Regions from separate parts of the Homo sapiens genome. Here region 1 is linked to region 2. Evidence: fine-mapped expression QTL. A gene starts in region 2. The other region holds a variant in brackets. All regions are shown on one strand. Distances are between the middles of the regions.

Evidence for each region. PIP is the estimated chance that this variant, and not a neighbour inherited with it, causes the effect.
Region 1: its variant is fine-mapped to the expression of PLPP4 in tibial nerve (GTEx, PIP 0.97).

Annotation. Positions count from the first base shown.
Region 1 is chr10:120,568,176-120,573,175 of GRCh38, forward strand. The region is part of intron 5 of PLPP4 (phospholipid phosphatase 4); the gene reads left to right. Among named protein-coding and RNA genes, the nearest start is that of LINC01561, 27 kb to the right of the region's middle. The variant AG/A (reference allele first, on the strand shown) is at 3,047.
Region 2 is chr10:120,454,397-120,459,854 of GRCh38, forward strand. It overlaps PLPP4 (phospholipid phosphatase 4), which reads left to right and starts at 2,831. Exons shown (of 7, transcript NM_001030059.3): 1 at 2,831-2,965. The coding sequence starts at 2,910.

The DNA.
Region 1 (5,000 bases), 110 kb after region 2:
GCCAGCACCCATCACAGACTGTCCCTATTGGTCAGCATTTAAGCCAAACATTTCAGGGGTAACAGATCTTCTTAATGCAAAGGCCATTTATATTCCCTTCCTGTGCTGGCTGAGACCCTCATGCAAGGCTGCCAGCAGCAGGTTAGAAGGGTTCTTCTTCTCTAGCAAACCCTGAGACAGGTTGTATGACATCTCGTAAAAGGCAGGAGGAGTTGAGGCTACTCGTTTAGAAGAGAGCAAGGCAGTAACAATCATTACAACCTAAGGGCTTCTCCTGAAGTCCATGCACCCCAATTAGAGGATGATCAGATGAGCACACTGGGCAAATCAATGACTACTCCTTGTTGGTGGTTTCTTAAATGTGCATTACTATTCAAATATCTTCATCAAATTTATGCTCTGTTAAGTCCTTTGAAGGTAAACTAAAAAATCATTTCTCATTAAAATATCATCTTTATTTCAAACCTGCTCATGCTCATATCAGCTCCTCTAATGTCATTATGGAAAAAGGCAATTTCTTTCTTTTGATGGCTTATTTTTATATTTATGTTTCAGATCATTGTGGCATATAATCAAAGGAAAAGTTATCCTGGGGATTTAGACCTTCTGTAGATTAAGATGCTCAGATATGCAAAACCACTTCCCATCCTTGTGACTGTCAGTAGTTTTCTCCAGTGCAAGGAGTAACATTTATGAGTTTTCATAAGCATTTTTCATCAAGGAGTGTGGGGTGGACAGTGGAGCCAAAGCACCTTCTGTCATTCAAAAATCCTTAATCCCCAACCAGGTGCGGTGGCTCACGACTGTAATCCTAGCACTTTGGGAGGCCAAGGTGGGTGGATCACTTGAGGTCAGGAGTTCAAGACCAGCCTAGCCAACATGGTGAAACCCCAACTCTGCCAAAAATACAAAAACTAGCTGGGCGTGGTGATGGGCACCTGCAATCCCAGCTACTCAGGAGGCTGAGGCAGGAGAATCACTTGAATCCGGGAGGCGGAGGTTGTAGTGAGCTGAGATCACACCACTGCACTGCAGCCTGGGGTAAAGAGTGAGACTCCATCTCAAAAAAAAAAAAAAATTCTTAATCCTCCTCTGCTGCTACTTTCCCTCCTTGTATCTGCCCATTCCCAGGATCAGTGCCTCCAGCCAGTTGACAAAAGGACAGCCACCTTCCTCCCGCTATCATTTTTCTTCCCACCACTGTTCTTCCTCTGCACTTCTTGTGCGTTGAGCCTGAGTTGATTCTTTTTCTCAGAACAAAATCTTCTTTGAAAATGCAACATGAGGTAAGAAAAGGAGTTTATAGTCTGCTTTTTTCTGTTTGCATTTCCTGCCTCTGACATTTGCTTTCAGACTAATTAGGAGTTTTGGAGTTCCTTTTCCTTTTCCCCATTGCTCATTTTCAAACAAGACTGTGCAACCCTTTCCATCATGAGATGAAAATCTCACATGGCTCAGGTAGCTCAGGTATCACCCTGCCTAGAAACAGGGGATAAAGGACATGACCTTTCATGTCTTTCTGTCCCCAAGGACCTTGGCCTCTTGCCAGAATCCTTAATAGGGTCCAGGTATATTTGTAAAATGAATACATGGTCTCTACCATTTATATTTTCATTTGGGCATTACATATCGGGTGCCTCCTATTGTCAGGCAGTGTGTTCGGTCCTAGAGCTTCAACAGTGACCCTGATGGGCATGTCCCTAATTGGGGGTGTGAAAACAAACAGGCAGTTAGCATTGCTCTAACTGCAATAATGCTAAGAACATCTGTGATTTTTGCTCTATTTAAAGAGAACACATAGTTTCTAAAGAGCTGCATCACACCTATATAAATGATTTGTACTTTCTGAGCCTCCATTTCTCATTCATAGAATGGCCTAATGACTACATCATTGTGTTGTTCTGGGGATGAAATGAGGCAACCTAATGAAAAGCTTCCAGCACAGTGCCTGGCCCATGGGAGGTACTCAACCTCTGATCACCTGGCTGTCCTTCTGATGGAATGCTCCTCTGCCTGCTCTGCTTGGCATGGTTTCCTCCTGCTGATGAGGGTGGGCAGGCATTGACCAGGCAGGCTTGTTTCCCACATCCTTTTTTTCAAATGGTCTTCTGGAGATGCACTTATATCCTCTGCAAAACACCCTTCCACACTAAGGTTTATTAAACTACCCAACGTTGCCTTTCTCCCTCAGAGAAGATCATACCAACTCTCTGAACATCCCAAAATGGAAAGTTTGTATAGATTGACTCATCAGAGCACAATTGTGTGTTCAGTGCCAGAAATTATCAGCTTGTGTGGAAAAATATAATTAGCAAAAGTAAAAAAATACAACATAAAAAGCAGGACCTGTCTTCCTGATTCTTATCTCATTTGTTTTTTAAGAGTTTTCTTTTTTGGTGCCAGTTTTGTGTTTCTTGTAATCAGTAGGGTCCAAAGATTTTCCGCTTGGTTTAAGAGTCAACTGGGGATGAAGTTAAACTATAACATTGCACCTAAGCTAGTGCAATGACTAGACCTTTCTTTACAAAGGGAGAGTTTTGAACTCATCTGGGTTGCTGGAGAGAAGAATTAGTGATTCCTTTTCAGTGTCACCAGGCAGGCAGATAGCCCTGTTCATGGGATGGACCTGGTGTTACCGCCTATGTCAGCTCCTTTTATTGTAATGCTTTGCCTATCTACCCTCATTCGTAACAGCCAGTGAGCATCACCAAGTGTCAGAAACAGGGTGAAAAGTCATTATCTTTCGTCTTCTTCCTAGTTTAGACCATCTTTCCTACTCACAGACAGATCAACACATAAATATTAACAATCAGCTGCTACAAATAAAGAAAACCTACTACAAGGCTTTGAAAGCGAGGGACATATGCTCTTCCCACAGGTCACTATGCTTACTTCCTTCCCATCAGTAGTAAAGGGGCGTGTGTGTGTGTGTGTGTGTGTGTGTGTGTGTGTGTGTGGTCTGTGTGTCTCCAACTCTGGAGAGCAAATGAACAAGTTTGTCCAGGACAAGTAGACTCTGAATATCCTCTCATCCCACTGGCTCAGG[AG/A]TTTTCTACTTATATTTCTGTTGTTGGTAATGTTAGCAGGATATGAGCACATTTGTCCTGTCTTATAATCCCCATGTTTAAAAATGTTTAATGCCCTAAGTCTTTGAATGCTCTTGTCTCAGTTTTAGTTCTTAATCAAGCAGAAAGCTAGGACTGTGCTTAAAGGGAGGATGGAGGTAGGGTGGGGGACAGACACTCACTTGGAATGCAGGTCATTTAACTTGTTCCATGCTAGCACCCTCCCCCTCCTCACAGTGTGTAAAATGCTTGTTTTCTTTGAGAAGAGAGTAGCAAGTCCTATGGCTAGAGTCAGAAAACATGTCTTGGACAGCCTTCCTGGTTTTTTGTTGTTGTTGTTTTTTCCTCCCAGTTGAACTTGAATCTGAGCCTTGATGATTTAGAGTCCTAGGATTTCAGAGTTGGGTGGGAGATGGCTCATGGGAGAGATTGCACCTTGATCCCAAACCCCTTAGCTGCCAGGAAGAGTGTCAGAAAAATTATGAAATCATACTAATTCAGTATGGGTTGGTAGAGTCTCATTCTTCCTCAGGTAGTTACTGGAAAAACAGGAGTGCAGAGAACCAAGGCTTCCCATAGCTCAGACATGCCCTTGGGCCAGAGGGAATGGCCTCAAAAGTCCTTTGTCAAAGGATATTATGTTAGTTCAATAACAGTATAAATATCAGTAAGAAAGTGACAAGCATAAGGTTTAGCATGAAATTGGAGCCTCATTGTGTAACTTAGGAAAGTAAGGGCACACAGTGAAGTTTAAAAAAAATATTCAAAGGCCCAGTAGCGTGTGGGCAGGAAGACTGGCTGCTGCTGGGTGCCCACAGGATCTAGGCCCTTGCACATTGCCTATAAAGATGACTTGGAATTCATCCTCTTTTTCAAAGAGGCAGAGGCTTCAACATTTTGGAGGGGTCACAGTGGTGGTCCTGGCTCCCGCCGTGTGGGAGAGAATACATTTTACCTACCCTTCAAAGAATGAGTTAGAGCCTGGGGTGCCAATGCTGGCCAAATACAAGTTCCTGAGACAGAGAAATCAGGCGGATGCTGAGGATCTCACCTCGAACCATTTGCCCAACAGTGGAGGGTTTCCACAGCCCTTCCCCTTCTCCATGCCCTGGATGTGCCCGGAGGTGCTGTAGGCAGTATTGGTTGCTTGGGCTGATGACTTATATGTCTTAAAGTCTCCAAGTCATTTTTTATGGGGACACATAAAAATTCCTGCTCAACAGCTGCCCTATGTTCATTGATTTGTTTGTTTGTTTGTTTCCCTAAGAGATGCCAGTTTGGCAACACCCAAGGCTGCCTCTCCCCTGATTCAGATCTTGGAGACTTTCATCCAAAACCATACAAAGCCCCAGGGCAGTTTTTTTTGTGTTTCCCTGCATTTAGTGTAATTAGGTGGATAAACTTGCAAAGCCACCTGATTTGAATAAAGTCCATTATTCCTCCTGAAGGAGCTCAGGATGGGATCAATACCAATGGGATCCAACTCTCCAGCCTCCTCTCCCACTGGAATACCTCAAGGAAGAATGTAAATGAATAGAAGGAACAGAGCAAAGGGGATGAGGATAGAATTTAAGAAGTCGTTGTGCTTGCTACGTTGGTGGCCAGATAGGGCCACTTTGGAACATCATGTAAACCACTTAATAACCTCCCACCACAGTATCTAGAGCAGGGCTGGGCCATGCAGTTTCTTCTCACATATTTTTACTTTAAGCAGAATACTTAATATCTATTGGCACGGCTCTGATGTTATTCATCAGACCTAACTCTGAAATCCTAGGACTCTAAATCATCAAGGCTCAGGTTCAAGTTCAACGGGGAGGAGAAAAAACAACAACAAAAAACCAGGAAGGCTGTCCAAGACATGTTTTCTGACTCTAGCCATAGAACTTGCTACTCTCTTCTCAAAGAAAACAAGCATTTTACACACTGTGAGGA
Region 2 (5,458 bases):
ATAAATTCCAGCAAAATGGGGGGTTTTATTGGGCACTTCTTTCGATCTATGTGTTTCAGAGTCTCTTAATGACCATGAAGTGAAGTTACATGCCCCTTCTGACTCCCTCTCTGGGTATCTCTATACAAATACGAAGTGATAAACTGAATATTCTCTCTGTGACCCTGGTAACAGACCCTGGTGGGCAGGATTGTCACGACTACGTCTCCTCCACCAACCTAACCTCGGGTGGTTTCTCTGCTCTGTCAGACAGGGTAACTCCTTTTGCCCTCCAAAACCACTTCCACCTTCTGCTCCTTGCACCTACTTTCTTGCCCCTACCAAGAATTTCTCCCCCTTATTTTTTTCTTTCTTTGCCTTACAAAAGCCAGCTCATTTTTTTTTCCTTTTCTTTTTTTTCTTTTTTTTTCAGATGGAGTCTCACTTTGTCGCCCAGGCTGGAGTGCAGTGGCGTGATCTCGGGCTCACTGCAACCTCCACCTCCCGGGTTCAAGCGATTCTCCTGCCTCATCCTCCTGAGTAGCCAGGACTACAGGCATGCGCCACCATGCCCAGCTAATTTTTGTATCTTGAGTAGAGATGGGGTTTCACCCTGTTGGCCAGGATGGTGTCGATCTCTTGACCTCATGATCCTCCTGCCTCGGGCTCCCAAAGTGCTGGGATTACAGACATGAGCCATCGCGCCTGGTCCAAAAGCCAGCTCCTTTCCGTGAGGCTGTGTCCTCAGGCTATCTCAGACTGATGATGTGGTTCCAACTTCTGACCTCTGAGCGATCCAGATTTCTGAAGCATGTGTTTGTGACTTATTAATACTGCTTTGCATACTTCCCTGATGTCTCCTTGTGGTCTATCAGCTCCCCATCTTCTTGAAGGCAGAGACAGATTATGAATCGTCTCACCCAGCACACAACTTTGCACAGGCTGTACTCAAACTCAGCAGATGCTTATAGGTAAGTGGTGCCCCAATGTCAGGGGCTATTGTCAGAATGCCCTGCTGGAATATGGCCACCTGACAATCTCAGACCGAGATCATCAGTGTTCACTAGGCTGCCTATGGGCTCTCCTACAGCACTTTGCCAATCCGTGGGAGTTGTTATGTCCAAGGTAGTTGCTGGGCCCAAGATACAGAGGAGACAGAAGCATACCTCCTCCCTCCAAGACCTTCCTACCTTACCTGCACCTGACACCCCATGTGCCTGATGATATATACGTGTATATATATATCATATATATAGCCATATATAATATATATGAATGAATATATCATATATATAGCCATATATATATATATATATGTATGAATAAATATTTATTCATTTACTAAGTACCAACCAGGTATCCACAGTGTGCCGGGCACTGGGCATAGAGTGATGAGGAATGCAGATACAGCTCCTGCCTGTGGTGCCTCAGGGCTGGAGTCCCTCCCACACAGAGCCTGGGTTGTTCCTACTCCCTCTGCCTCTCTCTCTCTAGACCCTGAGATATCTGGGCTCAGGTATCTCTGATCTGCACGTGTTTCCTTTGGAGGTAGGGTCTGTTTGCCCTTTGCTGATGCCAAGGGCTTCCTCCTAAGTTCTTTCTACCTGCTCCCCCTTTTATCCAGGACTGAGCCATAGCTCCTTAGTCCCAGGAACCACCTTCTAATCCGTGTCCTCTGCTCACACAATTTTGGCTGGGTCTCTCCTAAAATCCAAGAGAGGCCTGGGCTCCCCAGGAACAACCTAATGGTTATAATCACTGTGTGTTTTGCATTTTAAATGTCTGCTTGGTTTAAATTAGTGAAGCCAAGAAGTCAAAATTCTAAGAAAAGTAAATAAAATTCTGACCGGTTTGGGAAAAGCAAATCCAAGCTCCTGCTGGGCTCCAGCTGGAGGTCGTGACCCCTAGGCTGCGAGGGTTGGGCTTTTGGCTCTTAACCTGAGGATGAGGCTCTGGGTTCTACCTGCTGCCTGGCTGACGGCTGGTTGAATGCTGTGTCAGCGACGAGCGACCCTGACTTCCCACACACCGGCCAGGCCAGGGACGGTGGCAGGAGCTTTTTCATATTCCACAGTTCAGCAGCCCCAAGCTGCTGGGGGCGGAGGACAGGTGGTGGGGGAGAGAGGATTCGGTCCCCAGGGGCCACCTGGCGCTGGTGGCATGGCGGGGAGCCAGGCTTGCCTTTGCCCTCTCTCTGTGCCGGAGCCCTGGACCCTGGCTGGCATCTCCTGAGAGCAAAGCGAAGCCCGCGAGTGATCTCTGGGGAACTTCCTAGAAAAAAGAAAGAATTTCAGGTTCGAACGGTGTAGGGAGGGCCGAACACGGGAGCAAGGTTGGCCAGGGCTGCCCTGAGCCCTGGAGAATCCCCAGAGCGATCGTCCACTACATGCCCACGTGCGTGCGTGTGCCAGGGAGCGAGAGCCCGGACAGCGGGAGTCGGAGGCAGGACCAGGAGCTGCAGAGGGGCCGCGGGCAGAGCCCCAGCGAGCGCGCTGCCCTGGCGCGGAGCCCAGGGGCCGCCCACTGGCGGGGGAGGCGGGGAGCGCGCAGGGAGGCGGCGGCGGCGGTGGGGCTTCCCCGGGCTTCCCCTCCCCGGTCCGCGGGTGCCCGGCGCGGGCCCAGGAGGCGGAGGCGGCTCCTGGGGAGAGGGATCCGGGAGTCCCTGAGGCGGCCCCGGCTCCGCACTAGGAGGCGGGGTCCGCAGTATCGCCAGCGGCCGGCGCGGCTTCCCGGAGCCCCGGAGCCCGAGGCGCGAGGTTTAGGCTGAGCCCTCCCCGGCGCCTGCCCCCGCCCGGCGCCCGCCTCCGCCCCCGCCCGCGGCCTGGAGCGCGCCTCCCTCGCCTCCCAGGGTCTGGCGAGCCGGCGCCGGCCGAGCTGCGGGAGCCGCGGAGAGCACCAGCTGACGCCGCGGGAGCTGCTCCGGCCGCACCATGCGGGAGCTGGCCATTGAGATCGGGGTGCGAGCCCTGCTCTTCGGAGTCTTCGTGTAAGTAGTGGCGCACCGCGGGCAGGGCGCACTGACGCGGGGGAACAACCGACCAAGCCTCTCTGTGCCCTAACTTAGTTTGCGCAGCCGCTTCCCACTGGGGCCTGGGTTCGAGGTCCCTTCCCCGCCAAGTGCCCGCAACGTGTCCTACGGGACCAAGAGAGACCCTTCCTCTCTCCTTCCTGGGACCCTAGGCGCGGAGCGACCACCGCGCGCCGAGGCTGAGACCTGCTCCCGGGTCTCACCGGGCCCGCGCCTGTCGCCAGCCCCGCACCACCTGCCCGGGGGATCCAGGGCTGCACCTCTAAACAGGGACGCGCACCCTGGCCCGTGCCCTCGGGAAGTTTCTCCTTCTGTGTGATCTTTGAGGCCCACGTTGGAAGTCTTTACCCCTGGCCCCGTCTCCGATTCCTCCCCGCTGTGCCCAGGGCCAGACTCCTTCCGTGTCCCTGGCTTTAGCGCCCGCGGTCCTGGCGAGCGTTTTCCCAGCGGGCGTTTGCGGCGCTTCTCCTACTGAGAAACTGTTGCTGTGGAGGCTTGAGAAGTCAAGGGGCTGCAGGCCGGGGTGGGATACACACACCCTGGAGCTCTGTGCCCGGTCGATGTCCGCTTTGGGGGCGGAGGCCCTCCAGGGGTAGCCGTGAAATGCCCAGGGTGGCTTTGAGCGGCTGGCACTGAGAACAGCGATCCCGAAAAGAAGAAGGGGTGGTGGCGCAGGTTCTTTCAGAGATGCCTGAGCCTCCTCCGTGCGCCCAGGGACCCACCGCTCATTGACTTCCAGGGCCCAAGCTGCAGGGAGCTGTCACATCTCTCTTTCAGACCTGAGCCCAGAACACCAGCTCAGAGCCACCCCGCAGCCTCCCGTGAGCTGCTGTCACCTAGGCACCCACACCTGCACTGGTCCCTCCATCAGTGAGCCAAATTCTCTCCCCCTCTCTGCCCATGGATGTTTTCTGCCACATTCTAAGTATTAAAGTTACATGAACTTTTTGGATTTGCCATGCATTTATTTATTTGTTTGTTTTTGTTTTCGTTTCTGGAAAAGCCCTCCCGAGCCAAACAGGAGGCCCTCTTTGAATTTCTGCCTCAATCTGGAGTCATCCATGGCAGGTGTGCTGTGTCAAAGATGACTTCTGTTCTGGGCAGCCCAGGGGATACACATGGAAAGAAATGCCCTTTCTTGCATGTTTTTCTTTAGCAGGGATTAAATTCATCCAGAGTATTTATTCACACCATCAGAAAAGGCCATGAGCTCCCCCAGATGCAAGCAAGCCCCCCTCTCCCGCCTTCTGCCCGAACACTGGTGTTATTCACTGGGAAGAAGGAACGAGAACTTCAGTTGGATTTTGATGCATTTGGAAAAACAAAACACTCTTCCCTTCTCCTACTCTATTTTCTACCTTTGGAATGTACGTTAAAACTAATGATTGCTGTGTGATCAGATGGGGACAGTTTCTAATTGGCAGATGGGCTAAAACCTCATTAAATTATTATGTGATAGAAATGATAAACTAGTTTTCAGTGCACAGTAGAATTTAACATTTGTTGGGTGAATGTAGGAAGAATGCTGAGATAAAGTGAGATAGGCTCTTACACTATCTCACTATCTGGTTTGACTGCTGCTGGGGGTGCTCAGATAAAAAAGGGTCCAACAATATGTAAAAATATTTATAGTTTTCAGGTGTCCCTTCCAATATCCCCCCCAAATATTTATGAGATGTTTACAGATATACAATGGTCTATGCAGTAAATTTGAAAACTTGGTAATTATTGCTTATGCGCGTCTTGCTTTTTCTAAGGGTGTCATGTAAAAGCTGGACAGGCAGTTTATGTTCTGTTCTCTGAAGTTCCCTCTTGTGTTACTTAATAGGGGATCTGTTGTCACACATGGACATTGATAGCATTTTTGGATGACTCCCAGGTTTCTTATCAAGTTGTTAACAGTGTGTCCAACTTGTGGCTCTTTTACCTGCAAAAACCAGCTTTGGTATTGATGCGAGCCTCCCTAGGGGGCAGATCTTGGATGTTCAGATGCTGTTAGTATCAGGCATGTACCGACTTCTGGGAGGACGGCTGGGAGCATGCAGAAACAGATGACCCTTTGTTTTCTCAGATAAGCGTCTGGCACCTTGACAGAGGCTGACTTTTGGGGGAAGTTTAATTCTTCCTTTTGCCAGTACTGGAAATGATGGCAATATTGGGTTGTACCTACCTCTGCTCACGAAGATGGTGGTCTTAGCAGCACAGGGGTTTAGAAAGTGCCCCTGGGCAGGCTGAATCCGATTTCCCTGCTTCAGCCAGTGTAGCTCAGCAGCTAGTTTTGCTTGGTATTTCTACCCTATTGCTCAGGATGAAAGAATTATCTGCGGGGAGAGGGGGTATCTTGCTTCTTTGCAAACTTATGCCCCCGGAGAAACATCACCTGTAGATGTGCCTGTTCTCTGACTACATTTGCTCTGCATGAGAGCAGGGATCCTGTTACCCGTAGCCCAT